6 separate regions of the Homo sapiens genome follow, and regions 1, 2, 4, 5 and 6 are each reported to be linked to region 3. The links are microRNA targets in miRTarBase. Many come from high-throughput screens and were not tested one by one. Region 3 holds a microRNA gene; each other region holds the end of a gene's coding sequence.

The links. Region 3 holds the annotated microRNA hsa-miR-1-3p (UGGAAUGUAAAGAAGUAUGUAU, at 2,991-3,012, opposite strand). A microRNA usually pairs through its seed, bases 2 to 8, with sites in the 3' UTR of a target mRNA and lowers its output. Matches are read on the target gene's strand: a 7mer-m8 pairs with bases 2 to 8, a 7mer-A1 pairs with bases 2 to 7 and ends in A, and an 8mer does both.
Region 1: the mRNA of SYPL1 is a reported target of hsa-miR-1-3p. The part of its 3' UTR that is shown has no 7-base or 8-base seed match.
Region 2: miRTarBase lists GNA13 as a target of hsa-miR-1-3p. The part of its 3' UTR that is shown has no 7-base or 8-base seed match.
Region 4: miRTarBase lists ARGLU1 as a target of hsa-miR-1-3p. The part of its 3' UTR that is shown has no 7-base or 8-base seed match.
Region 5: the mRNA of SLC25A19 is a reported target of hsa-miR-1-3p. The part of its 3' UTR that is shown has no 7-base or 8-base seed match.
Region 6: miRTarBase lists DCUN1D1 as a target of hsa-miR-1-3p. The part of its 3' UTR that is shown has no 7-base or 8-base seed match.

Annotation. Positions count from the first base shown.
Region 1 is chr7:106,087,147-106,092,246 of GRCh38, forward strand. It overlaps SYPL1 (synaptophysin like 1), which reads right to left. Exons shown (of 5, transcript NM_182715.4): 5 at 3,359-4,793. The coding sequence ends at 4,659. Among named protein-coding and RNA genes, the nearest start is that of SYPL1, 23 kb to the right of the region's middle.
Region 2 is chr17:65,009,820-65,015,186 of GRCh38, forward strand. GNA13 (G protein subunit alpha 13) reads right to left here. Exons shown (of 4, transcript NM_006572.6): 4 at 1-5,010. The coding sequence ends at 4,438. Among named protein-coding and RNA genes, the nearest start is that of GNA13, 44 kb to the right of the region's middle.
Region 3 is chr18:21,826,025-21,831,391 of GRCh38, forward strand. MIR1-2 (microRNA 1-2) reads right to left here and starts at 3,064; the gene lies at 2,980-3,064. All of the region lies in intron 12 of MIB1 (MIB E3 ubiquitin protein ligase 1), which reads left to right. It overlaps MIR133A1HG (MIR133A1 host gene), which reads right to left. Exons shown (of 3, transcript NR_110369.1): 1 at 5,298-5,367; 2 at 4,596-4,770; 3 at 1-3,428.
Region 4 is chr13:106,540,253-106,544,252 of GRCh38, forward strand. It overlaps ARGLU1 (arginine and glutamate rich 1), which reads right to left. Exons shown (of 4, transcript NM_018011.4): 4 at 1,421-3,908. The coding sequence ends at 3,744. Among named protein-coding and RNA genes, the nearest start is that of EFNB2, 6.6 kb to the left of the region's middle.
Region 5 is chr17:75,269,318-75,274,684 of GRCh38, reverse strand. SLC25A19 (solute carrier family 25 member 19) reads left to right here. Exons shown (of 8, transcript NM_001126121.2): 8 at 1,046-1,693. The coding sequence ends at 1,234. MIF4GD (MIF4G domain containing) reads left to right here and starts at 3,454. Exons shown (of 6, transcript NM_001370592.1): 1 at 3,454-3,541; 2 at 4,440-4,571. The coding sequence starts at 4,490. MIF4GD-DT (MIF4GD divergent transcript) reads right to left here and starts at 3,386. Exons shown (of 1, transcript NR_036520.1): 1 at 790-3,386. RefSeq lists silencers at 2,028-2,077, 3,048-3,707, 3,818-3,887 and an enhancer at 1,752-2,539.
Region 6 is chr3:182,940,558-182,945,924 of GRCh38, forward strand. It overlaps DCUN1D1 (defective in cullin neddylation 1 domain containing 1), which reads right to left. Exons shown (of 7, transcript NM_020640.4): 7 at 1-4,616. The coding sequence ends at 4,537. Among named protein-coding and RNA genes, the nearest start is that of DCUN1D1, 37 kb to the right of the region's middle.

The sequences.
Region 1 (5,100 bases), not on the chromosome of region 3:
GTGCAGTGGTGCCATCTTAGCTCATTGCAACCTCCGCCTCCCAGGTTCAAGCGATTCTTCTGCCTTAGCCTCCTGAGTAGCCGGGATTACAGGTGCCTACCACCACACCTGGCTAATTTTTGTATTTTTAGTAGAGACGGGGTTTCCCATGTTGGTTAGGCTGGTATCAAACCCCTGGCCTCAAGTGATCCACCTGTCTCAGCCTCCCAAAGTGCTGGGATTACAGATGAGAGCCACTGTGCATGGCAAGATAAACTTTTAAATAAAGGTGGTACTATGAAAATTGGATAGGAGTATTGAAAATTATAAAAATTGAAGTAGACACCATGAACGTACAAAAATATAATCCCAAACTGCTTAACGACTAAAAAGTGAAAAACCATATTCAGAAGAAAAAAGGTTAATATCTTTATGACATTGAGGATTTCTTAATACAGCAAAATGCACCAACGGTGAAGAAGATACTTACATTAATATTAAAATAAAGTTTGTTTTTTTATTTTATTTTTTTTGGAGACAGAGTCTTGCTCTGCCACCAGGCTGGAGGGCAGTGGCACGATCTCGGCTCACTGCAACCTCTGCCTCCTGGACTCAAGCGATTCTCCTGCCTCAGCCTCCCAAGTAGCTGTGACTACAGGCACACACCACCATGCTCAGCTAATTTTTGTATTTTTAGTAGAGACGGAGTTTCACCATGTTGGCCAGGATGGTCTCCATCTCTTGACCTGGTGGTCCGCCTGCCTCGGCCTCCCAAAGTGTTGGGATCACAGGTGTGAGCCACCGACCCCGGCCATAAAGAACTTTTATATGACAAAAATCACAAAGTGAAAATGCAAGCCAGGAACAGAGAGAAGATATTTGCAACCTCTATAAATGTCAAGAGGTTAATACCAAGAATACATAAAGAGCACGTCAATTCAGCAGGAAAAAGCACCAAACAGAAAAATTTGCAAAGGATATGAATAGGCAGTACAGGGTGGTGGAAACCAAATGGCCAATAAATACAGGAAAGGACCACCAACCTAAATAGCAATCAGAGTAACATAAATTTTAAAGCATCAAAGACACAATTTCAAACTTATCAGATTGGCAATAGTCCAAAAACATCAAGTTATTGGCAATATGGAGCAAGAGGAAATCTTACTTATTGCTGGTGGGAGACTAACTTGTTACAGACATTTTGCTGAACAATTTGGAATACCTAGGTTACAATGGAAAACATGAACATCTCACATTCCAATAGTTCCCATTTCTAGTGATAGGTCTTAGAGAAGCCTTCACACACTGCAGAAGAATATTTGTGTGCTATTTTTAATAGTGAAAGGTAGGAAAAATGTAACTTTACCTCAGTAAGGAAAAGGCTTTATCTGTAATGTTTTATTTCCTTTAAAAAAAATCTGATGCAAAGCCAGGTGCGATGGCTCATGCCTGTAATCCCAGCACTTCGGGAGGCCGAGGTGGGTGGAGCGCCTGAGGTCAAGAGTTTGAGACCAGCCTGGCCTACATGGTGAAACCCCATCTCCACTAAAAATAAAAAAATTAGCCCGGCATGGTGGCGAGCACCTGTAATCCTAGCTACTTGGGAGGCTGAGGCAGGAGAATCACTTGAACCCGGGAGGTGGGGGTTGCAGTGAGCTGAAATCGCGCCATTGCACTCCAGCCAGGGCAACAAGAGTGAAACTCCATCTCAAAAAAAAAAAAAAAAAAAAAAATCTGATGCAACGCTGGGTGAGGTGGCTCACACCTGTAATCCCAGCACTTGGGAGGCTGACGCAGGAGGACTGCTTGCGCCCATGAGTTTGAGACCAGCCTGGGTAATATAGTGAGAACTCGTCTTTACAAAAAATGTTTTCAATTACCAAGCATGGTGACACGTGCCTGTAGTCCCAGATACTGAGAAGGCCAAGGTGGGAGGATCACTGGAGCCTGGCAGGTGGAGGTTAACAGGGAGCTGAGATGGCGCCACTGCATTCTAGCTTGGGTGACAGAGTAAGACCCTGTCTCAACAAACAAACATCTGATGCAAATAAAGCATTTGTTAAATATTATTTTGTATACTTACCTATTAATCTGAAATACTATATGAAAAAATTTTAAATGTGAAACATAAGCAATATTGCCTTTAACATTTACAGTAGGTTAAACATCTATTCAACTGACCTCTGTTCACTAAAACATTAGTAATGCTCATCTTTTTTATAAATAATTCTCTACAACCTAACACCTAGTAAGTAAAGCTTTTATTGCTTCTCTCCTGGAAATTATCCTATAAATGGGTTAACCTTGTAATGTTGATTCAAAAGCACAAAGGGAAAAGGCAATAGAAGTCCTTTTAAGATCTACTTTAATCTCAATACTTTTAAGTTTTAAATTTTGATCTCATTAACCTTATGAATGTCAACCAACAGAAAAATAAAACACACCAAAAGATCCAGAACTCTTTAAGGATTGTAAAGGGACAAGCTTGAAAGCCTGACGCCAATCCTCTCTTTGTCCAAAACCACCACCCTAACGGCTCCAGCCCCATGAATTCCTAGTTTAAGAATCTCTATATCAGATGCTATCAAAAGTTAGTAATCGTAGCTAACATTTATAGAGTGCCTACTAAATGCGGAACACTGTTCTAAGGGCTTTACATTTGTTAATTCACTTTTAAATCATAAACACACTGAGATCAGGAAAGTGGTTTAACTATTCTTAGTTTCAGTTCCCCGTAGTACAGTACAGTAAGATATTCTGAGAGACCATATTCACATAACTTTTACTACAGTATGGTTTTAATTGTGCCACTTCATTATTAGTCCTTGTTAATCTCTTACTGTGCTCAATTGATAAACTTTATTATAGGTGCATGTATGGATAGGAAAAAAGACAGTTCACATAGGGCTTGGTACTACACTTGGTTTCAGGCATCCCAGGGGGTCTTGAAACATATCCCCAGTAAACAGGAGGGAACTACTTACTTTATTTCCGACTTCCACATAAGCAAACTGAGGCACACAGAGGGCAATTTGCCTACAGTTAAACAGCTAGTAAGTGGTGTAGACAAGATTCAAATCTAGGCAGTTCGGTTGCAGAGCACACACTCTTAAGCAGGAATCTTTGCTAGTTAATTAGACAATTAATGAGAAAAGGTATATCAGGAAAACAATCTAAGAGTTGCAAATAAGTATTTTCTAAATGAGGTCGGAAGAAAAAAGGATAGAACCATAGTCTCCAAAGCATTTCTGTCTGTTTTATTCCTTGCCAAACATTAAAACTGTGATTCTATTTCCTGCTTTGAAAATCAGTTCTGTTTTGCACTGCTCAATGCCTTTAAGATGAAGGTTTCTTTGTAATATTAACAATCAGTGCACTCTTTCTTTCAACTCCTTTATTAAATTGGTTGCAAAAAAGATATACATTCTTATATTGACAATTCTTGTCATGAATAAAAGCATCAAAAATAAGGCAACAGCAAGATGTGCTTCACATATAAACAATCATGTTGTAAGAATAAGAAACCTGAATCCCTGTACAACAAAAAGATTAGGAAGCAAAATGTGAATAAGCTTGTATTCAGAATATACCTATATGTGTGTGCAAAGACAATACACTCATCATATACCTCACTTAGGTTCCTTTATGATGCATAATTCCTTAATCATTCATTTGTGAAACAAGAATGAATATTAAGAAACATGAAATCCAAATTGCACTTATTTTCACAATATCAATGCTAAACTCAAAATAGCAACTTCATTGACTCTCAATGGTAAATTTCAAACATGGAAAGCAATCTTAATTTTTTTAACCCTTTGACTAGGGTCTGTAAAAAACGGTGGATTATTTTACTGTACTTACAAAGAGGCTGGGTCTCAGCCTGCACTTAAACAGCATGAGCAACAAAGGACAGGAAACAAATATCACTAAGAGTAATGCCCATACATATAAAGATATCTAGTTGAGCCACGTTCTACTTACATAGCAAGCCTATTAAACCACTAGCATAACAGATCATATCTCATGAAACAGAATTACTAAATTAACTACACATCTCTCAGAAATTTCCAAATCCCTGCTCCCAACACAATTTTAGTACACCTATTAAGTACCACGGGTCATTTAGAAAAACAGAAAAAAATATACACCTAGTCTTTGCAATTAAAAAAAAATCATAACATAAACAATGTTAGATATAAATTTTGAACTCAATATGTTTTTTCCTACATATTTATGTAATCAAGGCTCTTTAAGCAAAGACAGGTGGTAGGTATATGATCTGTACAAACTTACAGTAGTGTATATTCCAAATAAAGGTTTTTCTTCCTACTATGGTATGACAATATAACTGTTTTCTGAATGAAGATACATGTTAAGGCTTAAGGTGTAAACACTTTGGAAGGCAAACAGCTTAGTGAAAAAAATTATGGTTCATTTAAAAATGTGTATCATTTCATAATAGACCCCTGAACTTTCAAATTTACATGTGAGAATACATTTACATCTTAACTTTCTAGGAAAGGCACAGGCTTTATGTAAAAAAGCAGCAAAGTTTTAAACCCACCAATATATTGACAAAGCCATTACTTTTATTAGAAACAAATAATGCTTCTCAAGGTGTTGGCAACATGTCATAGTATCAACATATACTTCATACAGTGTATTTCTCCCTTTAATTATATTCCGGTAGGAGGTGGAATACCTCCTTGGCTATGAGGGGCAGATGTATTTGATGGACTGTGTAGGCTGGTCTCCTTGTACACAAACCAAGCATTTCCTCCCCAGAGTATCATATTTAGAAAGCCAAATATCTATGAAAGAGAAAAAGAAATATGAAAATCAAATACCTACTTATAAAAATTCATGCCCTACTTAAAAATCTCACTTTTTCTTTAAATATTTAACATTTTTAGGAAGTACGCCATTATTTCACTTAAAGTTTAATACTACACACAATGAGAAATAAGGAAGACTACACTTCAATGTACAAAATGTGGTTATATAATGACTTATTCCCAATGAAATAAGGCTAAATCTCTAACATATAAAATCATGGCTAAGAGATTTACTCTTCCAAATACTTTTCACTTTTCTCCTATTTAGAATGATTATCAACTG
Region 2 (5,367 bases), not on the chromosome of region 3:
TCTTTCCTAGTACCATCAAACAGGCATGATTAAGGACAATTTCTCACTTACTATGGCAAAAAATATTATATACAAGCTTTCTTAACACAAACCAAAGTCACATACCAAGTAGTATATGACGTTCAGTGATATTCACTGACTGAAATTTTATGCACACTGAGTTCCAGCATACTCTGATCCACCTGTAAACTTTCATCATCAACAGCAGATTTGTATATGTCACAAAACTCTCCTTATCAAGACATAAAATATTGCCATATCATTCATGCTTTCAAAACAATGTTCATATAAGCTCTCGCATTTGAAACCAGATGGTAAGACCTGAATGCTACAAGAGTGAACATAACTTAAATGCTAACTACACGTTCAAGTACAGACATAAGAATGCTAGTGGTACAAACACTGTACTCCAAATGATGTTGTTAATCACCTACCAGCCTAAGACTAGTATCTACTTGATGGAACTTGAAAAAGCCATAAAGTCCAACTTGTTTAAAATGTTCAGACTTAGACTTACACTTCAAGATCTAGTATACATTTATTAATAAGCCCTAACCTCGTACCATAAAAAAATGGGCATGTGCTGTATTTGGGACATGCGGACACACCCACACCCACCCACAATCTCTCCCCTCCTCATGTTTACTAGACTGAAAAGCCACCCTGTATCCTATCATTAAAAAACAAAACAAAACAAAACAAAACAGTGCTTTTAGTCAAGCAGCACAACACAAGGACAGATCATCTGTGATTAACAGAAGCGAACGCCTTAAAATGATGGGAGAGAGACAAATTAACTAGGTACTAAGTCAGATTTCCAAGTGAAAAAGACATGAGCAAAACTTCTGGTCTTAATTTCTCAAATAAAACTAAAATAAATGAAATGGTAACAGAGTGACTTTCTCTAAATTTATTAGGGAGTTTGTTACAAATGTTTGGGCTTTACAGGCATGATTTCACGGATTCAAACAAGAAATTAACACTGATATTTAGCCTTCTCATGACATACACAGAAATAACATTGCTACAAACTGCAATGGAGAGAATCTTGTTTCAAATGGCTTAGTTTGGGGTTTTGTCTAAATGTATCATTATATAATGAAAGCACCAATTTGAGGGTTTCTCAAATAGTGATTTGAATTTTAGGACATAACAGTGTAACATGGTAACTTTATTCTTCATATATAAATAAGGCATAATCGGATGTGTATTAATGCTGAAAATACATTTTATCAAAAGCATAAATACAAGTATTTGGGTACACATTGAAAGTTAGGACTTAACCAATTTCTTCTTACAAAAAATGATAAGGACATATGGTATTTGTTGAATCTAAATCAGCACTTCTAATCATTTCTGGTATTAAGGCGATCTTATTTCCTTCTACTTTAAACCAACCACTGCCACCAACTGAATAAGGATTTCCCTAAACAGCCTCAATTTGAGAGACTAACCAGAGGACCTTCTCTATGCAAATTACATGCCAATACACCTTAAAAGAAAATAAGACAAAAGTGAATGAGTTTTTTCATTCCATATTGCTTTCTTTGGTTGCAGAGCAATCCAGTGCCCTTTCCAGATAATAAAATTGAAATGAAGATTTCAATTTAATATTTGGCAGACAGCAACAATGCAGGTTATTAAAAATATTAAAGGGGCAGAGGCATGCTTTGAATTACTCAGATTTTCAGAAAACATTTGACAAAACCCTTTCTCTATAAAAGTTATGGTCTAAATTTATGTTGTTTTATAAGGCAACTGTATATACATTTCTTCAAGGTCAATGAAGACACTTGTGTGATATTTCCTCAGAATTAAATGAGAAGGCATTCAGATTTAAGAACAGAATGTAACACAGGATTAGGCACATTTTATTCCAAATCATAACCATAAAGATTTAGAAAATCAAATACATCAAAGAACTTTAAATCTAAATTACTTTTTTAGAGACTGGGGTAAGTTTGCATAGTGAAATTATGAGCACCTTTTCAATTCTGTTCACTAAATTTCATCTCTCTCTTCATATAGTGGTATTTCAAAAGGATTCAGTTTTCATGATACAGGTGTAAGACTCCTTTCAAACGTTTTTAAAATACAACGTATAAAAAAATGTGGACTGAAGCCTTTAGATTGAACTTAAAGTTCTACTGAATGTCAAAACAAGCCTAAGTTGAATATAAGTAATTCATTGCCTCAAAATATAGTCTAGATTTTAAAAGAATGTTGATTCTGAGACATTACATGCAGCAGGGAAGAAAACTGCAAATGCCCAAAATAACATGATATCTATTTGGTGTTTCAACACTTCTTGGTGGTAATTCAAAAGGGGGAAACTTGGTGATTTCTGCTTTGTCAGGCAATATCTATGGTTCGTATCACAGATCTTAACTATGACTTAAGTAAGATGAAGTGTCCTCTTTCTATAGGGATCTAACTTGAGCCCTCACTGGAGTCAAATGTTTTGGCCATTCAATTTGCTAAATGTATGGGTAAACTCTCCAATGAATAGTCCAAATGTTACTGTGCACATATTCCGATATTCATTAGCACTGCAATTATGCTAATTTTGTGAATTTAAACAATGTATTCTTTTTGGCAAGAAGCACTAGATGTAGAACTATTCAAACACGCATGAATGATACCATGATACCACGAACATGCACGATACCATGAACTTGCATCACGGTGCCGGGCTACGTATGTGTAGCTCATGGATTACCATGGCATGAAAATGCTAGAAGTTATATGGATACAATGATAGTGGAAGTTCAAATGTGAGAAAAGTCAGGTATGTCAAGAACAATCCCTGGTTAGTTCACTGAAAAGCCCCACTCTCGTATCAGACAGCAAGACAGAACAACAGCCACTGACTTGGAAAGGCTGGGTGATCCATAACGACCAATCTTTCAAGGACCAATAAAATACCTGAGTACACAGTCAGCTATACAGTAAAATGACAGATATCACAGTCTTAAAATTTTCAGGAAAAGTAGAAAAGCTGTCAGACTTTTCAAGCTGTCGCCAGCCTTGGACTTCTGTTTCTCTAATTGTAGCACTACATACAGCCTAGAAGATAGTATTTCAGTACTGCAAACCAGCCATTCTGATGAGTTCACTATGAATGTATCTGCGATCACAAAGCTACTTCGTGGACACATTTTAATTTGGTAAGCAGTCGGGGGAGGTCAATGTAATCATCTTTAGGTGCGAACTAAAAAAATTACTACTGATCCTTAGAAGCATCCTTAAAACATTTAAAATATACCTCAAAAAAGCTGGACTTTCAACAACAACAATTATACAAATGTATACATACTGTATCTGTTAGAGACACACCAAGAATGAACAGGAATCTCAAATAATGCCTTCTTGAATAGTCTTGACAGAAAAATACTGCCCTTAGCAAACTCCAAATAAACAAAACGATGCCACAAATGGCACAGTGTGGAGTTGATGGGACTGGACAGGACAGCAAAAGATAGATGTTTGTGATGATACAACAATGATTTCCTACAGTAAGGATTGGTCTTTACTGACCAACTGAGATAGGGCTTAAAAGTCAAATACATGACATTCTGGAACAGGTTAAGTTTATTTAGAAAGTTCTGTTACCAAGTTGCTTGCAGTTTTTAGTTGCTGCTATGGCCAGAATGTTTCACATATGGTACATTAAACTACATGATAATTAAATATGAGAAAGGCAAATTCTATTTCACTCGTTACGTTTGACCAAAACACGGTAAACAGCATTAGCTTGCCTTTTGCTCTCCCATACCACCTGTGAACTCTTCATCAGCATCAGACCAAAGATCCTTATGTAAACTTGAAAACAGGAAGAACATTACCTTCAGAAACACAGAAATCTAAAAGCAAAACAGCTGTTGTGTATACAAGCAATTAAAATATGAAGGCTAAACCTTCTATAAACCTACAGAATGCCATTTCTTAGATAGAACTTCTAACAGCCCTTACAAAATAGGAGGTCACCATAAAGTTAGGCAACAAGTGTCACTGCTATATGTAAGGCGGACAGAAGATATCTTGTTTTGGAACTGAATATTCCTAACCTCATCCCTACAAGTATTTAAGGACACCTTTGATACTTGGCACTGCAGGAGAATTCAGTTTGGAAAGTAGAATAATTTAAAGCCTGAAATATGCCTAGTCTGAGGTCAGCTGGGAGGTTTTAACTGGACTTGAATAGAAGCCATGGTGAAACAGATCAAAGCCTGCATTACAGCAAATCTTGGCGATGAGTCACTCAACAGCTTTCAGCCACAAACCAAAGGCCGCAGAAAAAGTACTAAGATTTTCAAGAAGTTAAACGTAGAATTAAGATTGTTCTAATTCTGGTTGTAAACTGCTATTTTAAAAAACAAAACAAACAGAAAACATCAAAAACACAAAAAGATATTAAAACAGCAAGTCTTTTGTACATCACTGTAGCATAAGCTGCTTGAGGTTGTCATGCAGAATAGTATCCTTCACGTCACGGAAAACAAGGCGGATGTTCTCCGTGTTGATAGCAGTGGTGAAGTGGTGGTATAAGGGCTTCTGTTGCTGGTCCCGGCGTTTGTTCCGGAAACATTCCACCAGGAATTTTTGGACGTCTCTTAAGCAGTGGGGATCCCCTTCAAATTCTAGGAAATAGTCTTTGATGCTCACAATTTGCACCTTCTCCTCAAGCAAGTCTGTCTTGTTTAAGAACAGAATTATGGAGACATTGCTGAAAACCCGGTTATTGACGATTGTTTCAAAAATGTTCAGAGACTCTGTAAGGCGATTGGTCAGTCGATCTTCCATAAGCACCTGGTCAAATTCACTTGAGGAAACAAGGAAAAGTATTGATGTCACACTGTCGAAACATTCAAACCAACGTTTCCTTTCTGATCTCTGACCACCTACATCAACCATTTTGAAAGGAACATTTTTTATTTCAAAGTCGTATTCATGGATGCCTTTGGTGGGTCTTCTGGCAAGCAGAATATCTTGTTGTGATGGAATATAATCCTGGAAAAGAAAAAACTTGTTTTATACCTATTAATCCCGAAGTAATGCGAATTTTTAATGGACTACTAACTGGACTAGTGAATAGATATGCAAACAAAATGATCTTTTAAGTGACATTTTCAGATAGATTATGCTTATTATAAAATGCCAAGACTGGTCAGACATGGTGGGTCATGCCTATAATCCCAGCACTTTGGGAGGCTGAGGCAGGAGGATCGCTTGCGAAGCCAGGAGTTTGAGAATATCCTGGGCAATATAGCAAGACCCACTTGTGCTCCCCACAACAAAAGCCAAGATACATTAAAATGTTAGCAGGACGGGTTCAAAATTTACTACAAATGGCCAGAATCTACTTGT
Region 3 (5,367 bases):
TTGCTTCTTTTTCTTTTTCTAATCTTGTCCACAGCCGAAGTCTTTGCTTAATTCTTACATGTAGACAATAAGCTATTTCAAAACCAATAGTATTTAAAGGAACAAATAGACCTTGATGTATTTTAGAGTAATGTTTTCCATTTATCTCTAGGCAGCAAACCAGATAAATAGTTAAGCTAAAAGGTTGGGGAAGAGTTCAGTTAGTCACCCCCTTCTACTGCCACTGCTTCTTTTAGCATTATAGTTGAGGGCTAATAGCAAATTGTTGATGGGTGTAGGAATATCAGTGGCCTTAAGAAAGTACCTCTGCCCTTTGATTTATAAATAGATCACATGTGTATTCAGTGTATTGCTTGGACTTGTGTCGAAAGGAACTACCATGCATGCCAGTTTTTCTTTGTTTTTGCTTACGTGGTGTTACTAATCATAGCTTAGTAATTTAACCCTTTTAAAGGTCTATTTCCTTGACTAAGTTCTTTGTCATTTTGGGTACAGATTGCCAAGTTACTTCTCATTATCGCCTTAGTAATACATGGTGGTTAGTTACAATCCATGGATACAAGTATTAAAATCTATTGTGTGGATAATACTTGAAAAATCAGAGTAAATTTTTGTTATAATGTGGTTTTACTGTTGATTTCAATGTCTTGAGAGGGGTGTCTTCTTGCATAAAATAAAAGTTTGATAAATTATAATTTGCCTATAAAGTTAAGTGCTCTCAGAGAAATATAGAGTAGAGAAATATTCTTTACAGTTACTATTTTAAACTGAGAGGTCAACGCTAATTCAGGCAGTATGCAAATGACTCTTACACTAAGTATATTCTGCGTCTGTTGGTTGGTAAGTATCATACTGCTGGTGAAATTAACTACAATTCTTTTTCATCATTTTTTCTAGTAGAAGTGAAACAGGTGTTAAACTGCCTAAACTTAAGTGCTGAAGATAGCAATAATACTGGCTTCTATTTTTACTAGTTATATGGGAGCTGTTTAGCAGATCCAGTTGCTCAAGTGTGTTTTTGGATGGCAGTTCAGTTTCATATACTGGCCATATCGGGGCAAGGAGAGGCCATGGGAAAAAAATAGTACAGCATTTGATAATGTCAGCATCTGTTATCCCTGTCAGGGAGACAGTTGAAATGTTTGAGTTATACCAGTGTCAGCAGATGCCCAGAGTTTAATATGTACTCAGTTAAAAATGAACAGCTGATCTAAGTGATAGATGTGACATTTTAGAGTGATTGAAAATACTCTTAGATAAGTTAAACTCGCAAGCACCAGAATCAGCATATAATTTTACTTTTAAAAATGAATAGCCTGTCATTTTATTTTCTAAGGATTATTTATATAGTCTTAATATTATAGCAAAGAGAGTCTTAGTTGCTAGGATGTTTGAGAAGGATTATTAAACAACTTGTATACCTATAGAATGACCAATATAACTGTTTATTATAAAACACAAGTAGAGTAATAAGCTTTGAGTATTTTTATAGAAGAACCTCTACTTTTGAGGTATATATTTTGAGTTCTTGGTATTTAGGACCTATACAGGTAAACTTACCAAATAGAACATGAATCATTGCCATTCTGTTTTGTGGATGATCAGAAGGGCTATGCTTATGTGAGTTAAGCTTTGAACTAATTTCTTTGAAAGTGTAGAATTTTAAAATTATGTGCCTTTTATAATTTCCAGTAAACATGCAGTAACACATATGATGCCATGTGTAAGTCATTCTCATTCTTTATAATCTGATAAAATGAAAATCATCTTTGTATTAACTAGTCTTATTAAACAGAAAATGAACTATAGTTAAACTTAGTCATTTCCATTCAATTTCTGATACAAAAAATTTAAAATATTATGCTTTTATACATGTGTAAATATTTCAGTTGAAATAATACTTTTAGTAAGAAATGGTTAGAATATGTGAATATTACTCTTATTTTCTAACTTTGTCATTAGTAGCTTAAAACAGGTACTGCTTATAAATTTTGCTAAGAGCATTATTTGGAATTTTTTATAAATAATATACAAACTGTGTGAAATAAAAGTATTTTGATATTTCTAAACAATGGATTGATCAAGTTTAGAGAAATTGAATTGTAATTGCATAGTACAATAAAAACAGTTCTTCGATCTGTATAAATTGGTTCTTGACTATAGTGCTTTCATTTTACATGCCCTCTTTGGAGAAAGCAAATTCGAAGATAATACAGATAAATTAATTTCTTTTAAATATTTGGTAGTCTGTTACCAATATACCCTGCTGACTTACAGCTGTGGACCAGAATTTTGTCATTTTTCATGCTTAAATCTTACATTTTAATTAATTTTAAGTTTTAACTTCACATTTAAAGTAGAGATTTGGGTTAAGACCCTGATAAACTTGAGAAGGAAGGACAAGGGCCACTATGTTTGTAGCTGTCAAAAAAGAAAGCCTTTTTAAAACAACAAAACTTTTGGTCAGAAATTCCTCTAATATTAATTATACATTTATCAAAATGAGAAGAAATAGCTTATTATGTGAATGAAGCCAGCTCTTAGTATCTTATTTTTCTGTACAAATCAGTGAGCCCTACTAATGAGATATACTTAAGATTAAATTGTGGAGACAGAAAATAGGTCATGTGTATTCCTCATTCTTTTGTGCTAGTAATACTATTTTCCCTTTTGCAGTCAAATTTTAATAATGAGAGTGCCTAATTTAAAAATGTAAGATGTCTGTTTTAAACTTAGATGATTTAAAAGGAGTTTCATGATAATTGAAATCTACTTCACTGGATCTTCTTTTCCTTCATGAAATAAAAACCTTAGGGATAGTTTCTATCTATCAGTAGTAGATAACCTTTTTTTTTTGGTGTTAGTATTGCCAAAGGTCATCTGTTCATGACTAGGTTAATTTACCATATGACGGTCATTCACGTAGAAAGAAGCAAGAGCTTCTTTTAGCTCAGTTTAATTCTCCCTTGGTGGTTTATTGCCTACCAAAAATACATACTTCTTTACATTCCATAGCATTGTATGTTCATATGGGTACATAAAGAAGTATGTACTCTGAGTAGGTATTACTAAGTTGTTAGCTGTAAAAACATGAAATATTTTATTTTCTTATTTGTTAGTGAAACATTCAGCTTACTAATGTAGAGCAATGGTAAATCATTTGCAGAGACTAATTTATCGAAGACTAAATTTTGTAACAAGTTTACCTGAAGCATGGCATTAATGGTTCCATATTCTTGGTGGACATAGACATTCCTAAGCATTTGACCAGTTATCTGTTGAACTTTGTCCTGGTTTGATTCTTTTTGCAAGAGATTCAAAGAATCAGTGTAGTGTTACAGAGTGTATTTCGGAAACTTAAGATCAGCCTAGTGTTTCTTCAGTCTTCAGAGTGAATTTCTTCTTTTTTTGTAGTCTGCTTCTAGATCCTACAGGTAGATAGTAATTAATTAAATTCAATTTTTTTTTTACAAACTAGATATCTTACTCAAAACCTAACAAATTAACCAATAAGTATTTCTGATATTGACTCTAGAAGTTGAAACAACAAGGAGAAAAACCAGGATGAGTGTGGGTGAATTGAACTTTTTTAAAGATTATGAATTTTTGTTAGTGTTTTATAAGGTCACAGATAAGAACTCGTGATCATTTGAAAATTTGTCATTCTTTTTTCTTTATTAGTTCCTTACCTGAAGTTTGCACTTTGATGCTTCTCTTTGGGTTAAATACAAATATGAGTTGAATACAAATTCAAATAGATGTAGAAATATCTAATTTTGGTGAGTTTAAGTTGTTTTGATTCTTTAATCTTTTTAGTATAAAGGATAACTGTCAGAATCGTCAACTTTTAGAAAGTATCACTTCAAAGAACTGAAAGGTTTTAGTCTGTGAGCACCTGGGTTTTATTTACCTTGATAGTTTAGAATGAAAAGAAATTATAGTTGGTAAGTAGCCTTCAGTTATTGTGGTATTAGAAGGTTAATTTAAAACCTCAAGAAATTTTCAGATTTGTCAAAGGAGGAAAAAAAAGGGCAGGGATAGTAGAATTTCTGCAGCTTGTGATAAAAAGCTAGTGCAGCTTATAGAGAGCAAATCAGAATGTAGCAGTAGATAGCCCAGCACTACAGCAGTTTCAGCAATGCAGCATTAGAATTACACCATGCACGTTCTGATTTATTTTTGTGGCCAATTATTAGTAAGCATTAAAAAGTATTTTATGATCTGCCAAGTTTCTTGGTTGACTAAACCTTGAAATAGAAGCTAATAGTTTTAGAAAATAAGTATACTTTGGAAGCAGGATGTGACTTACTAGAGATGCAAAATCATCACTTAATCTGAAACAATAATGACTAAATCTTTAATAATGTAAATGACAATAATGTATTTGTACATTTTTAAGATAAAAAGTTACTGCCATAGTATCTGAACAATATTCCTTTTTACACTACATTAGCTCTTAACTTGAATTGTGAAATTAGGCTATGGTTAGATAGAATTTAATTTAACAATGAGAACATATATTGAGTCAATAATAGGTAAGCATGCAGAAAGTCATAAGCATCCTTAAAAGTACAGGCCTTATGGTGCTCTGTTACCTGTAAGCTTAGTGTCATGCAGCATTTGCAGCAGGAAGAAAGGTAGTAACCTAGAGAATCACATCAACAGCAGCCATCTCATCTTGATTGTTCGTTCACTCTATTTGCTGATTCAGCATTTCTTTTCATGAGCCCGGTGAAGGAAGGGGATGTATCAGTGAACACAGAACCTCACCTTTTAAGATAAATTTGAAAAACAAACGAGCAAACAAAAAACAAGCTTACTTTTCCCTCTCCTCCCCTCTTCCCTTTACCAAAAACAAAAACAAAAACAAAAACCACCAACAAAAACAACTCTAAAATTGAATCAGTGTTGGCCATTTGATTTGGAATGTCATATAACAGTCTTGCACAGTTATATAGGGAAAGTTAAGCAATCAAAAAAGGTTGCTACAAAGGCCAAGAAAATGAACCTAGCTTGTCAGATGAAATGCTTCAGAAGAGGGGAAAAAGTTGCAGAAGTTAATTTTATAGTCTAAAAAAGACAAAAAAAAAAAAAAACAAAAACAGAACCCAAAACACACCTTACTCCCCCCAAATAACTGTAAACATTCACCCTGTTTTTCTTTGCCCTCCAGAATACATTGGGTTCTTCTGACTTCTTAGGAAATAGTCTGCATCTTTCTTGCTTTTAGATTTTTTTTTTTTTTTTTTTTGGTTTTTAGTTTCCAGGATTAAATAGTAGAGCTGTAGTGAAGCTACCTTGTCACATCCAGAGGTCAAGTCTGCAAGCGAGGTCAGGACTTCCACATGGTCACTACGAGGCTAACTT
Region 4 (4,000 bases), not on the chromosome of region 3:
TGCACAGAGCCAAGATTACACCATTGCACTCCAGGCTGGCGACAGAGCAAGAGACCATTGGCGGGGGTGGGGGGGGGGGGGCAAAAAAACAAAACAAATACACTTTTATAGCATTGATACAAAAACAATGAGAGAAACAGCTGGATCACTGGAGTTACTATTCTCTAATGTACTGGCTCTTTAGAGCTAGAGCAAAAAATAAAAATATAAAAATAGAACTGTCCCAACATCCTCTGATCAACCACTGTAGGCTCAGAAAAAGATAAATCATCAAGTATGACTTCCAATTAAGTTTTAATTTCTAAACCCAATGACGACTTAGGTATAAAAGCACTTAACTTGTGGAACACTTACATAGATGTAAAAGCAACCACTCTGATTTGTATTACTTTGTAATACCAGAAGGAAGTTCCAAAGAAATACTTAATGGAGTAAGAAGCTAGTTATTTCTCTCACACACGCAAATCCCTTAATTAGGTCTTCTGTATCCCCCACTTCCACTGTTTGCCAGCACTAAATCAGTTACTCTAGAACCAATACTGGATGGATGGATGGATGGATGGATGGATGGATGGATGGATTAGGTAATACAATCCACTCATCTTAAGCATATCTACAAAGTAAACAGTGTAGTTTATCAGCAAATGCAAATCTTCTAGATTACTGCACCACATTTTCCATCATCACGGACAACTGAATGTTAAAAGCCAAAAACAACGCAAGAGTAAACAAAAAACGTTACAGACAACAAAGATAGTGAAAGAATCAAGACCACTGTTAAATGGCAATTCAACAGATCAAAAAAGTAGGGTCTATTGCTTGGGCTTCCACACTCATTCTAGACTTCCAGGTTGAGGCTTTTACCTTCAGCAGTCTCTTGAGGTCCTCTGATTAGTAACACTAGTACTTGTTCACAAGGCTCTCCTGGAGGGGGAGGAGAGCCTCAAAAATTAGGATAGCCTGTCTTCAGTATTTCTCATGGCCATTAATACAAAACAGATGAATGGTTTTGCGTGTAAAGATGCAGAAAATTTAGACAACTGAAAAGAGACGCTCTAATGGATAGAAATAGCTTTGGAGAAATGTCAGTGAAGTGACAGGCTCCTCATAAAATGAGGCATTAGAAATGATACATAGAGTTCAACAAGTCAGGATTCTACGCTTACTATACTTAGAAAATTGAAAAAATACAAACCACTGAAAATTCTTAAGATACTGCTAAATCCAGGACAGGTGGTGATACAAAAAAAAAAAAAAAAAAGCTATGGACACATACTAGCACAGTAAATGAATACGGAGATTACTTAGGGTAGAAATAGTCTGATTTGCTGCATCTTCATAAGGGAAACTGAAGTAGGTAAAATCTCATACTACAAACCCCTTCCCCAATTTAAAGCATTAAAGAGTCCTCACACCAAGCTAATTTAAAGGTTTAGTTTATACAATTGATAATTCTGCAAACCACAATATGTCAATAACTACATACTGTAATAAAAATAAACAAAGTCATACTTAATTCTATAATGCATTAAGAATAACCTAAAAAAACAAATTGTGAATAAAGGCATATTTAATAAATTAGGGAACATCTTAACTTCTAATAGACTGGGGGAAATTTTTAAGTTTTCTATGTACACAAAGGCAGTGGGAACAAATGAAAAAAACAAATTACTACATTGTTGCAGCACATTAAAGACTGGATGGTGTATATTATTCACAATTACATCCTCTTTCCCATAGCCTGGCAGAGGAAAGTAGTTACCAAGCACAGGAACAATTTCAACATCTCACTGGAGTCTCCAAAAGCAAGCAGATACTGCAGGATGTCATTAAGCAACTTACTGTCACTTCACACCATATGTGGCAGTAAGAAACTTAAAAAAAAAATTAAAAGGCACGCATAAGCTGATTTCAAATATTTTAAGTCCAGGCTACTCTCTTTAGATACAATGTTTTGAACACTTGTATAGAACAGTTTTTAAATAAACATTTCCAAAAACTTGAATACAGAACTTAGGAACCATGAATCTTCACCAAAAAAAGTTACATTGAAAAAAAAAAAAATTCATGAAATAATTACAGCTAACCTATATTTAGAGATAAAATATTTTTTGGCAACCTATATTCTTTAGGAAAATAAAATGTTTGATTTTAGAGTAAGTAGTATGTTTACTAAAAGTTCTCACTATATTTCATGCCTATTTAAAATTCTACCTTTAAAGATCTTTAAACTGATTTTATATTGTTCCTTACCACAATTAGACTCATTGAAGAGCTCAAAACTAAAGCAACAGCATTTTTCCTAGCATGCACACACAAAATAATCTACCATTTAGTCATCTCTTTAGCTTATGTTTTCAATTTTTAAGAATAATCAAACTGTCTAAAAAATATTGGGCAAAAATAAAAATATTTTCTCTACTTGATGACATGTTTATGCATCTCAGGTAGCATTTTAGATCAATATCCTTTTCTTGAATGTTTTAATACCAGTATACTTAAACATATGTTAAGAGTAAATGAGGCAGATTCTAGTGTATAAAATGAAAGCCATTCATAAGATTTCACATGCAAAAAAAAAAAAAAAATTCATAAAGTTCAAATGTGTTTGTCCTAAAAATAAACGTGCAAGTACACTACACAATGAAAATGACTCGACCATCTTAGCCTTTTTTTGACAGTATAAAGCTAAGTTCTTTCTGATGGCCCACTCTGAAAACGATCTCAGATTCCATAATTTAAAAGCATTTTTCTAGCCTTTATTAAGTATACTTTGTGATAATACTTATATCCTAAAACAGAGGCACAGGTTTGAGAATTTAAATCTTCTGGATGTTGTTAGTCTTTCTTAAAGGTAACACTGATGCCATTTGCTCTATCAGCATAAAGTTGATATTTGTAAAAATAGCCATTAAATACTAATTCACAAGTATATTTAATGTACATATAAACCCTATGTTAAAAGTATAAACAAGAGGAAATATAGTTCTAAGACTTCTAAATGGTTGACCATCAAAAAGTGAACCACCCTCTTTAAGACTTAACATAACATTAAAAAAAATTGCTTCAACATATGAATTTAAGACTTTACTTTATTCAGCAAAATCATTTATTTACACAATGGGGAATGCTGGTTTGATTTTGTCAATGAAATAAAAACAAAATGAACAGAGACAATACTGAACTGTATATATACTTTGTATCAGAGTTGACCAACTGTTTCCTTACCTGTATCAGGAACATCAAGAGCAACAGTATCACAAGGACACTGGTTTAACAATACACCACATAGGTCCAGTAATACCCTGGGAATTTCCCAATGCAATCACCAACTTTTTCTTTTTTTATAAATATATAAAAAAACAAAAAGTCAGCAAAACCAGCATTATGATGTAGCAAACAGAGTATAACTCTGAAGTCAGTGGGGTCAGTAAAAGCCTTATCAGACCATCCATAGTTTTACAATGTGATCTGCTCTTCCTCAGACCACTAATATAGAATCCAAACAGGTGAAAAATACGTCACTCCTTAGAATACAACAATGATCTGATAAGGATTTGACTTAGTGGAAGGAAAAAAAAAAAAAAAAAGGGAATTGCAGAGCATAGCCCCTATTAGAACAAGCTAACTTTCCAGATTTTACAAATTAAAAAAACAAAAACAAAAACAAAAAACCACTTCAACATGAAGCTACCATACAAAGTTTTTCCATTTTTCTTTGTAAAAAGTTCAGAGTTTGCAATTTAATCCTGGGTTTTTAATGAGAAGGACAGTTTTGGCCTGGACTTCCCCTTGCCCAGGATAATTTTTTGTTCTTCTTTTTGTTGACGTTGTCGTTCTTGTTCTAGTTTCATCCTTTCCTCATGAATCTTTCTTTGTTCTTCAACAATTCTCAACTGTTCTTCGGCCTGAAAGTTAAAAGTAAAAATTAATTATAGAAATGTATTAAAAATTATCATATGTACCCCTGCAACAGGTGTTATCTATTATGTATCTACAA
Region 5 (5,367 bases), not on the chromosome of region 3:
CAGGCATGCACCACTGCACCCAGCATGAAGGGACAGTTTGAATTTGGACAGGGAGCCGATGGTGAGAGCCCAGGATGGCAGAGGGAGGCCTTACTGCTAACAAAGACTAGTGTAATCCAGTTTGGCCAGAGGTGGGAAGGGCACGTGGGAGGACCAGTGGAGGTCAGATCAGGGAGGGAAATCAAGGCCAAATGGTGCAGTGCCTTAAACGGCAGATCTTGGGGTTTGGACTTGATTTCTCATGATGTCGTCACTAGGAGTTACTGCAGCTTTTGGAGGGAAGCCAGGCTTGAGGAGGGTTGTGCCTGGGGATGAATGTCTGGCAGCAGTGTGTGAGGTCAGCTGGAGAGGGTGAGGCTGGAGGCAGGGAGGCCCGGCTGAGAGCTACTGAGGGCCAGGTTCAGATCTGCTGCCCAAGGGGGATCAGGTGGGATGGGATGAAGGGTCAGAGATGCCTCTGGGAAGAGGTTCTGGAGCCATTGCTGGATCCTTTGGAGCCACAGGCAGCCGTTCTTCCTGGGCAGGAAGGAGCGCTGTCCAGCTTCTGATTTCTAGGCCTGTCATCTGTTCAGTCTTAACCCAATTACAGTAGAAAGAATGAAATTAATTTATTTGCTATTTTGAGCTGGGCATGGTTGTCCATGCCTGTAATCCCAGCACATTGGGAGGCTGAAGCAGGTGGATCACCTGAGGTCAGGAGTTCAAGACCAGCCTGGCCAACATGGCGAAACTGCATCTCTACTAAAAATACAAAAAATTAGCCAGGCGTGGTGTTGTGTGCCTGTAATCCCAGCTACTCAGGAGGCTGAGGCAGGAGAATCACTTGAACCTGGGAGGCAGAGGCTGCAGTGAGCCAAGATTGTGCCACTGCATTCCAGCCTGGGCAACAGAGTGAGACTCTGCCTCAACGAAAAAATAAAATAATTTGCTATTTTGCATTCATTTCTTTGTCCAGCAAGTACTTCTTAAGATCTGTGATGTGCCAGGGGCTGTGTTGATGGGAGCAGAGCGGGCATCCATATTTTCATCCCTTTCCTCTCCCCAGGTACGGAGATACAAGGGCCTCATGGACTGTGCCAAGCAGGTGCTGCAAAAGGAAGGCGCCCTGGGCTTCTTCAAGGGCCTGTCCCCCAGCTTGCTGAAGGCTGCCCTCTCCACAGGCTTCATGTTCTTCTCGTATGAATTCTTCTGTAATGTCTTCCACTGCATGAACAGGACAGCCAGCCAGCGCTGAGTGCAGGAAGGACCCCAGGTCTTCCCTGGAGGCAGCCTCCTGAAGGAAGGAAGATTCAGTCTCCACTGAGAGGTGCCGTCTGGCCCTTCCCTGCAGGCCAGCTGCCCCAAGCGGGGTAGCAGCCTTGAACCCACCCAGCTGGGACACCACCAGAAGGTCCAGGGCTCTCCCCATGAGAGAATCAGAGGGAATGCAGGACGTGGTCTATGGTGAGCCAACGACACAGTGAGAAGGAGCAGGAAGTTGCTGTTTCTCCTCTGACCAGCCCACACTCCAAAGGAAACAGACGCCATCCTACACCTATCAGCCCTGCCTGCCAGGAGAACAGAACACACTCCTGGTCTGGATGGGGCTGCTGCTTGAGTGCAGAGGGCTGCGGTAGGCCCTTTGCAGGAGTCAGGTCCCTACACTTGGCCTGTTTTTCCAACCTATTTAATAGACATTAAAGCTAAACACACATTCCTTATCTTACTCCATCTCCCCTGGCACATCTGCCTACTCACAAAGTATGAGGGAAAGGACTCCTGCCTTCCTCAAATCCCATGTTCTCCATAGCGGCAGCCCTTGGCAGCTCTGCTTCTAGTGCTGGGGGAGACTCCAGGCTGAGCCAGTCACTTTCTGGGCCCCGTGCCCAGACCTTCGTGTCTGCAGACACACCACCACCCAGGCTGTCCTCTCCCAGGACCGGGCTGGTCATGGCCGTGGGGCTCCATGGAAAGCAGATCCCAGCGCCCGTGCAGGAAGTGGATGGGCCATGCTGTGGGCAGGCGTGGGTGAAGGTGCAGCCTCTCCCCAGTCTACCTCACTGACTCCTCTTTCACCCAGAGCTGGGTCAGCCTTGCTGGGTGAGGAGCTATCAGCAGGACAGGTGGCATCAGCGCCCACTGCCTGCTCCTCAGTGCAGAGCATGCTGCGGGTGCATCCTCCCCTGTAGCCCCAGAAGGGCCGTGGCTCTGAAGCAGCCCACTGATGGGGATGGCAGAAGGAAGGGGCGGGCACGTAGCCTGGTGAGGGCACAGCTGGTGCCTGGGGTGTTACCAGAGCAGAGGGACACCCACAGGCGGAGAGGCAGAGGAGAAACCAGTTCCAGGCTGAGGGGAGGTCTCCAGAACATGACCTCCACCCTTCCCTCCATCTGCCCGGCCTGTAGGGTTGCTCCGACCTGGGAAGCCCTCCATTCTGCCTCCCTCTCCAGCCTTGGAAAGAGGCACCCACTGGGAGCCGGCGCTGGCCCTGGCCCTGGCGTGTGGGTCCTGGGCTCCTCCTCGCACCATCCTTCCCTGCCTCTGGTCTGGGATTTTGGGGTCTGTCTGGGCCCTGAATGCTGGGGCTTCCTGGCTCTGGGCTGCTGGTTCCCAAGGTCCAGGCTGCGGCGGGGGCCACGAGGATGCAGCTGCCTGAATGCATTTTTTATGAAATTCCGTTAAAGTTTCTTCTCTTCATCTTTCCTGCCCATTGGTTTCTTTTGCTGCAGCTGAGCGTTCTCTTCCTCCTCCGTTTTCGGTGACCACTTTGGCGGTTCTTTTAAAAGGAGGCGAGAACGCGGGCAGCGCCGGCAGCGCTCCTCCCGGTCGCGCGGCAGGAGCGGCGGCAGTTCTTCCCCCACTTCTAGGTGCCCTCCTGTCACCCAGGGCAGACGCCGGGCGGTGGGGTCCGCGCCACTTCAGGGGCATTCGCAACAACCGACGGCCGCGAGTTGCCAATGGGGCCCCTTTCTCGGGGCTGCCCCTATGACCTGAAACTCGCTTCGCCCATGTCCTCCTTGGAGCGGGAGAGGGTTGTGGCTGGCCCCGGCCCTGCAGCCCCTGCCTTCTCTACCTGGGTTGGGGGAGCGGGGAAAGTGGTGCGACCAGGGCTGATGCTGTTCCTCCTGCCACCAGGTCCCCACCACGCGCTCTGCAGGCTCTTCCCACGCCGCGCAGCCCAGCGGTGTCTCCCGGCCCAGTGCACCTGAGCTCCGGGGAGGGCTGGGTGCGGGGCCACGCGCAAGATCGAGGTGCCGGCGGGTCCGGCGTGGGCCCGGACACGGCCCAGGCGCACCGGGTGAAGGGGTGACGAGCCAAGCGAGTTCCGCTTGCGGCTGGGTGGCAGCGTCGCAGGGTCCCACGCAGGCGGCGCGGCTTCCGGGGCGGCCTGGAGGCCAGGGCAGTGCCCCGGGGGCCCGGCAGGTGGCGCGGGCGAGCCGACCCTTCCCCGGCGCCGCGCGAGGAGATGAGCTCACGGCGGGCCCCGCAGCGCCGGACGCTGGTTGCGCGCTCCCAGGCGCCGAGCGGCCCCGGGCACGCGCGCGCGCCACCGGCCCGGCAGGTGGGTCCCGGCTCCCACGCCGCCTCTCCCGCCCGCGGGACCCTGGGCCGTGGGCTCCGCAGCCCGCCCTGTGCCTCCGGGAGGGGCGTTCCGGGCGCGGGGGGAACGGCCGAGGGCTGGAGACCCTAAAGGCGCCTCCTACGGCCAGAGGGGAGCCTCCGGCGGGAGCCACCTCTCCGGGGCGCATCATCCTGCCCCCCAGTAAGAGGAAGGCTCCAGAATGGAGCTCAGGAATTAGGAGTCTCGAGTGCGTAGGGCCGGGTTACTGCCACTCGGGAGCCGATCCGACCAGCCTGTCCCAGGGAGAAGCTGGCACGGGTCTGGGGAGTTCAGGCTGCTCCCGGCAGGGGCGGCGGACAGGGCGCCTGCGTCCCCACCCACGCAGGCCGGCCCCATCCGGGGGATGCAGCGGCGGGTGTTGAGACCGAAGGACTCGGCGAAAGCCAGAAAGAGAGGGTTGGGGAGAGGGGCTCGGAGACCTGCTGGGGACAGAGTCGCACCGCTTGGAGTTCCCAGCCTGGCCCTCACCCGGCATCTTCCTGGGCCAGCAACGTCAGGCCGGTTTATTTAAGCAACTGTAACGTCCGCCCGCACACACCCTGCCCCAGTCTACTCCTGCCTCCTGCTGGGACTGGAGGGTGGGCGCTTTCCTGCTTCAGCTTCTCGCTCTTGTGTAATCCCACAAGCGAGGGATTTCTAAACTGAGCAGCAGGTGCCTGGCTGATGCCCAGTCCCCACCAGAAGCCAAGCCTGGTGGGCCTTCAGCCAACCACCGCACGCCACGGACCGCCCAGGAGTCCCTGTCCCGAGCGCGCCGTCAGCCCCGTCCAGGGCCTGCAGGACGGAACCCGCCCTGCGCTCCACACCTGAGGCCGCTCCCTTCGCCTCTTCTCCTCAGGTGCTGTCCTTATTCCCAGCCCAGTCAAGAGCTACCGGGGCTGGCTAGTCATGGGGGAGCCCAGTAGAGAGGAGTATAAAATCCAGTCCTTTGATGCAGAGACCCAGCAGCTGCTGAAGACAGCACTCAAAGGTGAGCACGGGACCCCTCCTGAGCTGGGGTCAGGAGCTACAGAGAAGGGCCCCTGTGGGCAGCACCAGAGGCTGAGCCTGGTGAATGCCTCCACCCCTCCCCTCATTCTCTGACGATAGGAGTCGGCAACGTAATTCTTGAACTGGAAGACAAGCTACATTGAGGCCATTATTTTGGAGTATGAATCACAGTCACCTCTCAGACTGTAAAGACTGTTTTAAAAGTTTAACCATAGGGCTAGGCGCAGTGGCTCATGTCTGTAGTTCCAGCACTTTGGAAAGCCAAGGTGGGCAGATTGCTTGAGTCCAGGAGTTCAAGACCAGTCCCGGAAACATGGTGTAAACCCCATCTCTACAAAAAAAAAAAAAAAAAGAAAGAAAAGAAAAATTAGCCGGGCATAGTGGCAGGCACCTGTGGTCCCAGCTACTTAAGATGCTGAGGTGGGAGGATTGATTGAGCCTGGGAGGGTGAGGGTGCCATGAGCCATGATCCTGCCACTGCACTCCAGCCTGGCTACAGAGCGAGACCCTGTCTCAAAAAAAAAAAAAAAAAAAAAAAAAAAAAAGTTTAACCATAAAAAAAAGAACACGGCTCCTGCCCTTGAAGCGCTTACATTTGAATTGCTGGTTTCTGTGCTGCCATAGCCCCGTCTCTTGAATGCACAGTTGCCTGCTTTGAGACAGAAGATGGAGAATATTCCGTTTGCCAGAGGAGCTATAGTAATTGCTCTCGCCTGATGCCTTCCCGCTGTAACACGCAGTACAGAGGTTTGTCTTCAACTAATAATTAGCAACAC
Region 6 (5,367 bases), not on the chromosome of region 3:
AAAAATTTTTTTAACTGAGTATTTTTCCCCAAACCAAATCGAATATGAAACACTAACAGCCTACAACAGATAAAAGTAGAATGCCATAAAGGAAGTGGGAAAGGGCCTGCCTGCTATGGCCCTACCTCATGAAGGACAGCAGCCCCAAGTTACAGCTTCAAGACCAATGCTCTGAAGTATTACAAGCTACATTATGATTTCTGCACAGCATGATGGCAAAAAATAAAAAAGAAAACAATCATGAAGCACTTGTAAGTAAATAGAAAATTGGGCTATACTTAAAAACACTTTTAAAATCTCAATTTAAAAAATGGACAACTATAACATGATTCCCTTTAAATAATTTCCCTTTAAAACTCCATAAAGACATTACTTATTGAGAATTCCACTAACTACAAAGGCTGTGCATCTTTTACCATAACTTCCTTATTTGTGACAGATTTTTCAAAATCAACCAAAGGAAAATAAAAAAACACATTAATAGGAAACACTGAACCTAGTCAAATAAATGAGTTGGTGAGCAAGAAATGCTACTTACTCAACAGGTAGGAAAGAAAATAAGATAGCAAGAATGCTCTGATAAAATCATTTATGTAACTATATTATGAGTTTGAAAAAACAGCACTATTTGCCTCCAGAAATCGGGTACAAATAAAGCAAATATTTAAGAAAAATGGCAACAAATAGCAAAGATAAACCTGGAAAAGGGCATTTGTACTATTAGGAACTTTCTCATTTATCTTAACTACAAAATATACACCCCTTTCCCTCAGAAATCAAAGATAAAGGTGTCATGATAAATAACTTCACCACAGTCCTATGAAATAAAAATAGAAATTATTGCTATATTATGATTGTAAAAATGGAGGCAATAAAGAGTTCAGAAATATACTCATTTATAATCAATTAAATGATGAGTCATAATTTGAACCCTAATTATCACATTATGTAGAAATCACAATTCAGGTTTTGTGTCCCCATTTATATGTTAAATAGTTCACATTTAAAAAAACATTTTATCATTACATTATCAAATTTGATAAAATCTTATGAAAACATCTAAGTATTCAATATAAATCATACTGTTAAAAGTATAAGGTAACATTAAAACTGCTGAGGTGCCAGATAAGTATTTTCTGTTAAATATACACAATTTAACATTTAAAACTACATAAATTAATTCTTGCTAAAAGTTGATTCAGTTTTACAAAGGCATACTTTGTGAACCATGGTGAATTTCCCCAGCACCACTTTTTTATTCCAAAACTCCTTCGATTAGGTTTAACTTTCTCCTGTCATTCATATGTGAAAATTACAGAAGGTTTACAATACGTAGTCTTAATAGTAACATGTTTAAAAACCTAAGCAAAGTGTACATTAAGTTAGCTACTACTACTCACTTCTTGATTATCATCAAATAAAAAATAAATGAACACTTCATTCATTTAAGTCTGAGGAAAAAATAGTGTACCTTGCTTAAATAAGAATTCCCCAGTAAAGATATTACGTAAAGGATTTCTCATGTTATTTTGTTGAGTAAATTTACTTTCTCTCATTAAAACTTTTTAAAAGTCTAAGGAAGGACATGTACTTATAATGCCATATTATGCAAGTACAGTATTGTTAATAAAGCAGCCCAGTATAGTTGTAAACATCTTAAATGTAGTAAACAAGACTTGGCATGTCTTTTCTCCCCAAAACATGCCATTACAATGCTCTTTCCATGAATAATTATTCTTCCTAGAAAAGTTTTCAGGTATATTTTAAATCTATAAAAAAAATACACTGAAATATGTGAAAAGATTTAGTCATGGCAATTTCACTGCAGCTTTTATTGCCTCTGTTGGTAATATGACAGGGACTGTAAGAAACACAATTGAACTTACAGAGATATGCAGATGATATTCACTAAAGATAATCTTCATCTCAAGTATTTTTTATATGTGGGCACTTCTAATTTTATACATTTTTCTATTTAAAAAGCATTACATTTTAAAATTTGTACCTGTTTTGACATTTGGCAAAAAGGAAACTGTACCTATGGTTCAGTTTAAAACAAAGAATCAGCATGGGGAGTTTACCGGAATGAGGACTGAAACACTTAGGAGTTAAAGCAATTCAAGGGGCGTGTGTGTGTCTCTCCCTTTCTCTGTCAATCTCTCTCACTCTCTCTGGCTCTCTCACAGACACAGACTCAAACACACACAGCCATATGTGTAATCATTTTTTAGTACAAAATATTCCCTGTAGCCAGACATTTATCTTCAGAATAATCACACCACATTAAATCAGTCTTCTCTTTTCAGCCCTAGTAAAAGTTTTGTTTAATTCTAAGATGCCATCATAGTGAACAACCTTAACTTTTATGCTACATAATTATATTCAAAGCTTTATGTATTTTTGTTTATAATTACACAGTAATTATAAATGTTTAGTACCAACCTGATGACAAACACTATTTTGTTGAAAAGGTTTTGCATTTAAAAAGAAAAATATGTAAAATCCAAGGCACTAGGCCACGAACCAATATGACTTTTAAAGAAAACACTTTATATTGAAAAAAAAAAAAAAAAAAAAAAGCTAATGGGATCTCATTTCAAAACACAGCATATGTGAATTAATCAATCTGAAACCAATAACCATAACTCAAAATCTTCAAGACAGGAAACAAAACAGTACATATATATAGATATATAGATATATATATCTTTTAAAAATTTTTCATAATTGAAGTTCCTCTTTATATTTACAAAAAAATCAGGAAATACTGAAAGCAGCAAGATTCTTCTTTTTCCTTTTTCTTTTAATAACCAATTCCAGTAGCCTGAATAGAAATTTTCAAATTTTTCTTTTGGTAAAACTGCATTCTTGAATTAAAGTTATGATTGGAATATTAATATGTCTATAGGGAAAGCTTTCTAGTCTATTTCAAAATCATGTAAAAAGCAGTTTTGATATGTCATTGTTTCTTAAAATAATTTCCATATTTGCATAAAATGTACTGCTATTCTAAGTACATTCCTTTGTTAATATCAACCCTAGACCTTAGAGAGTGCCTGGATATATATCCCAAGCAGAATCTATTCCTATCAAAAGACCATAATCATCAAACATTTGAAGTATTACATTTCTAGCCTGCCTTACGGAAATGTTTAAGAAAGCAAGAAACCCTTCTTCACATGTCAGTAAGTGAACAGGGAAATGACCATTTTCAGCATAAAAGCAGCTCATGGGGCTTGTAATGAAAAAAATACATACAAGATAGCATTCTGCTTTGATGAGAAAACTGAGCTAATCTGAGTGAAACGAAAACAGTAAAGAGACTAGAAGCCAGATTGGTATTTTGCATCGTGTATGCTTGTTTGAAAATCTTTGCTCCTGAAGTAAATATTTGGCAACCACAGTGATTAGCAGTTAAAGCAATTTCAACAAAATAATAAGTCATCGAAAATGGACTATTTGTCTGAAAGAGCAGTACCTATATTATAAAGATTGAACTTCATGGCTCATTACAACCATTTTCAAAATTTAACTGCAACTATCTTCTTATAAATTAAGAGAATTCCATTTGTGTTCCATAGTGCGATGACAAAAAAAAAGTAAAAACAAAACAAAAAAACCCTCATGCCTAAATTTAGAATATTGTATTGTGTAGCAATCCAAAACATTCAAAACAAATTAAATAGTTTAACTTATGTGACAGGCAGATAAGCATTTCAAAAGCATAATGAAGTCCAATTATGTAGTGCATAATGTAGACAGGAGAAGAATCTAACATTATGCAGACATTTTCTAAATAAAAGCTCCCTGTAGGACAGCTATATATAAACATGGGTAAGGTAAGCGCAGACTAGTTCTGTGGAACCTTTTGAAATCAAGAGTCTAAAACACAATACATTTTTCAGGTAGGCACCAAGTTATCCTAAAAAATTTTCATGTCGGTTATTCTGACATTGTTTTTTCATCAGATACTCACATCAACAACACATGTGATTTGCCAGGAAAAAAAAAAAATTCCCCCCAAACCAAAACACCATTCCAGATCCAGTACACTTAAATATATCACTCTCACTGGAAGTGCTATTAGCATAGTCTTTGCAACTAGCCCAAAGCGTATATTTAAGAAGTTTTTATAAATTGTTTTGTGATGTTCATATGTTTAATTCTTATGCCAACTGTTTTCTGATGAAGACAGCATTGTGCTTTATGCGAGAATGAAAACCTCAAAATAATCACCATAAAGCTTCTAAGACTTATGGGAGAATAAACTAGGATGGTCCACAGATATAAGATGAAATCCACAATGTTGGAATTATAAATGTTTAGAGCGGCCCAGACTAGAAGACAAGCCCAAACCACCATTAGAAGAATGAAATACGATATGGTCCAAGATGTATCCTTAAAGTTTTGTCTCAACCCTCAGTCTGAATTGTGAGGATTGATCTTCAGTTCAGTCCAGCCAGCAGAAATTGACTGTGCAATTTTCTGTTGTATTTATTGTACAGACTATGTACATTCTAGAAGGTTCCTTTAGTGCTACACTGTTGTACTTTTTGTCCCAGCAATTTGAGGGCGTGCAAATTCCACAAAGTCATCAATAAGAACAGGCCATGCTCCTGGAAAAAAGAAAAAATATGAAAGAAAGAGAAGGGGGAAAAAAGCAGAAATAAGGCTAACATTTTAGTAGAATCCTTTTTTTAAGACTTCCTCATAAGCGTTAAAGTATATCATTCTTATCTATTCCCACTGATTAAGTCTTTCAAAACTCAAACTTTTTGGAGTTTTTACCCCAAATATTCCTTGTATTCCTTGTGATTTATTACTCCAACATTTGGTTGTTCCTTGAGTGATAAAAGTAACTTGTCTGGCAACTCATCAATAATATGATTTTCTCAAGGCCACTGCAGTCAGCCAATGGAAGTAATTTGGTCAAAACTGGCAGCCTGAGGCAGGAGAATGGTGTGAACCCGGGAGGCGGAGCTTGCAGTGAGATCGCGCCACTGCACTCCAGCCTGGGGGACAGAGCGAGACTCCCTCTCAAAACAAACAAACAAACAAACAAAAAACTGGCAGCCTAAGGAGCAGCTATGAAATGATAGCATGCTGCCAGTGCTGAAGGCATAGGAGGAGAAACAAGTTTTCAAGCATTCTGTGGCCATCTCACAAAGGAGATTAACAGGAAGTGTCAAATTCCATCCTATTTCATGCTAATACGTTACTAAAAGGTGTAAAATTGCATATATGCATGCCTCTACACATTCACATGCCCATCACCAAGTCAGAAAGCTCTCCATTTTTGTGTAAAACCTACCAGAAGACACAATTATTAGGTATATGCAGGATTAAACATTTCTCACTTTGCAGGGA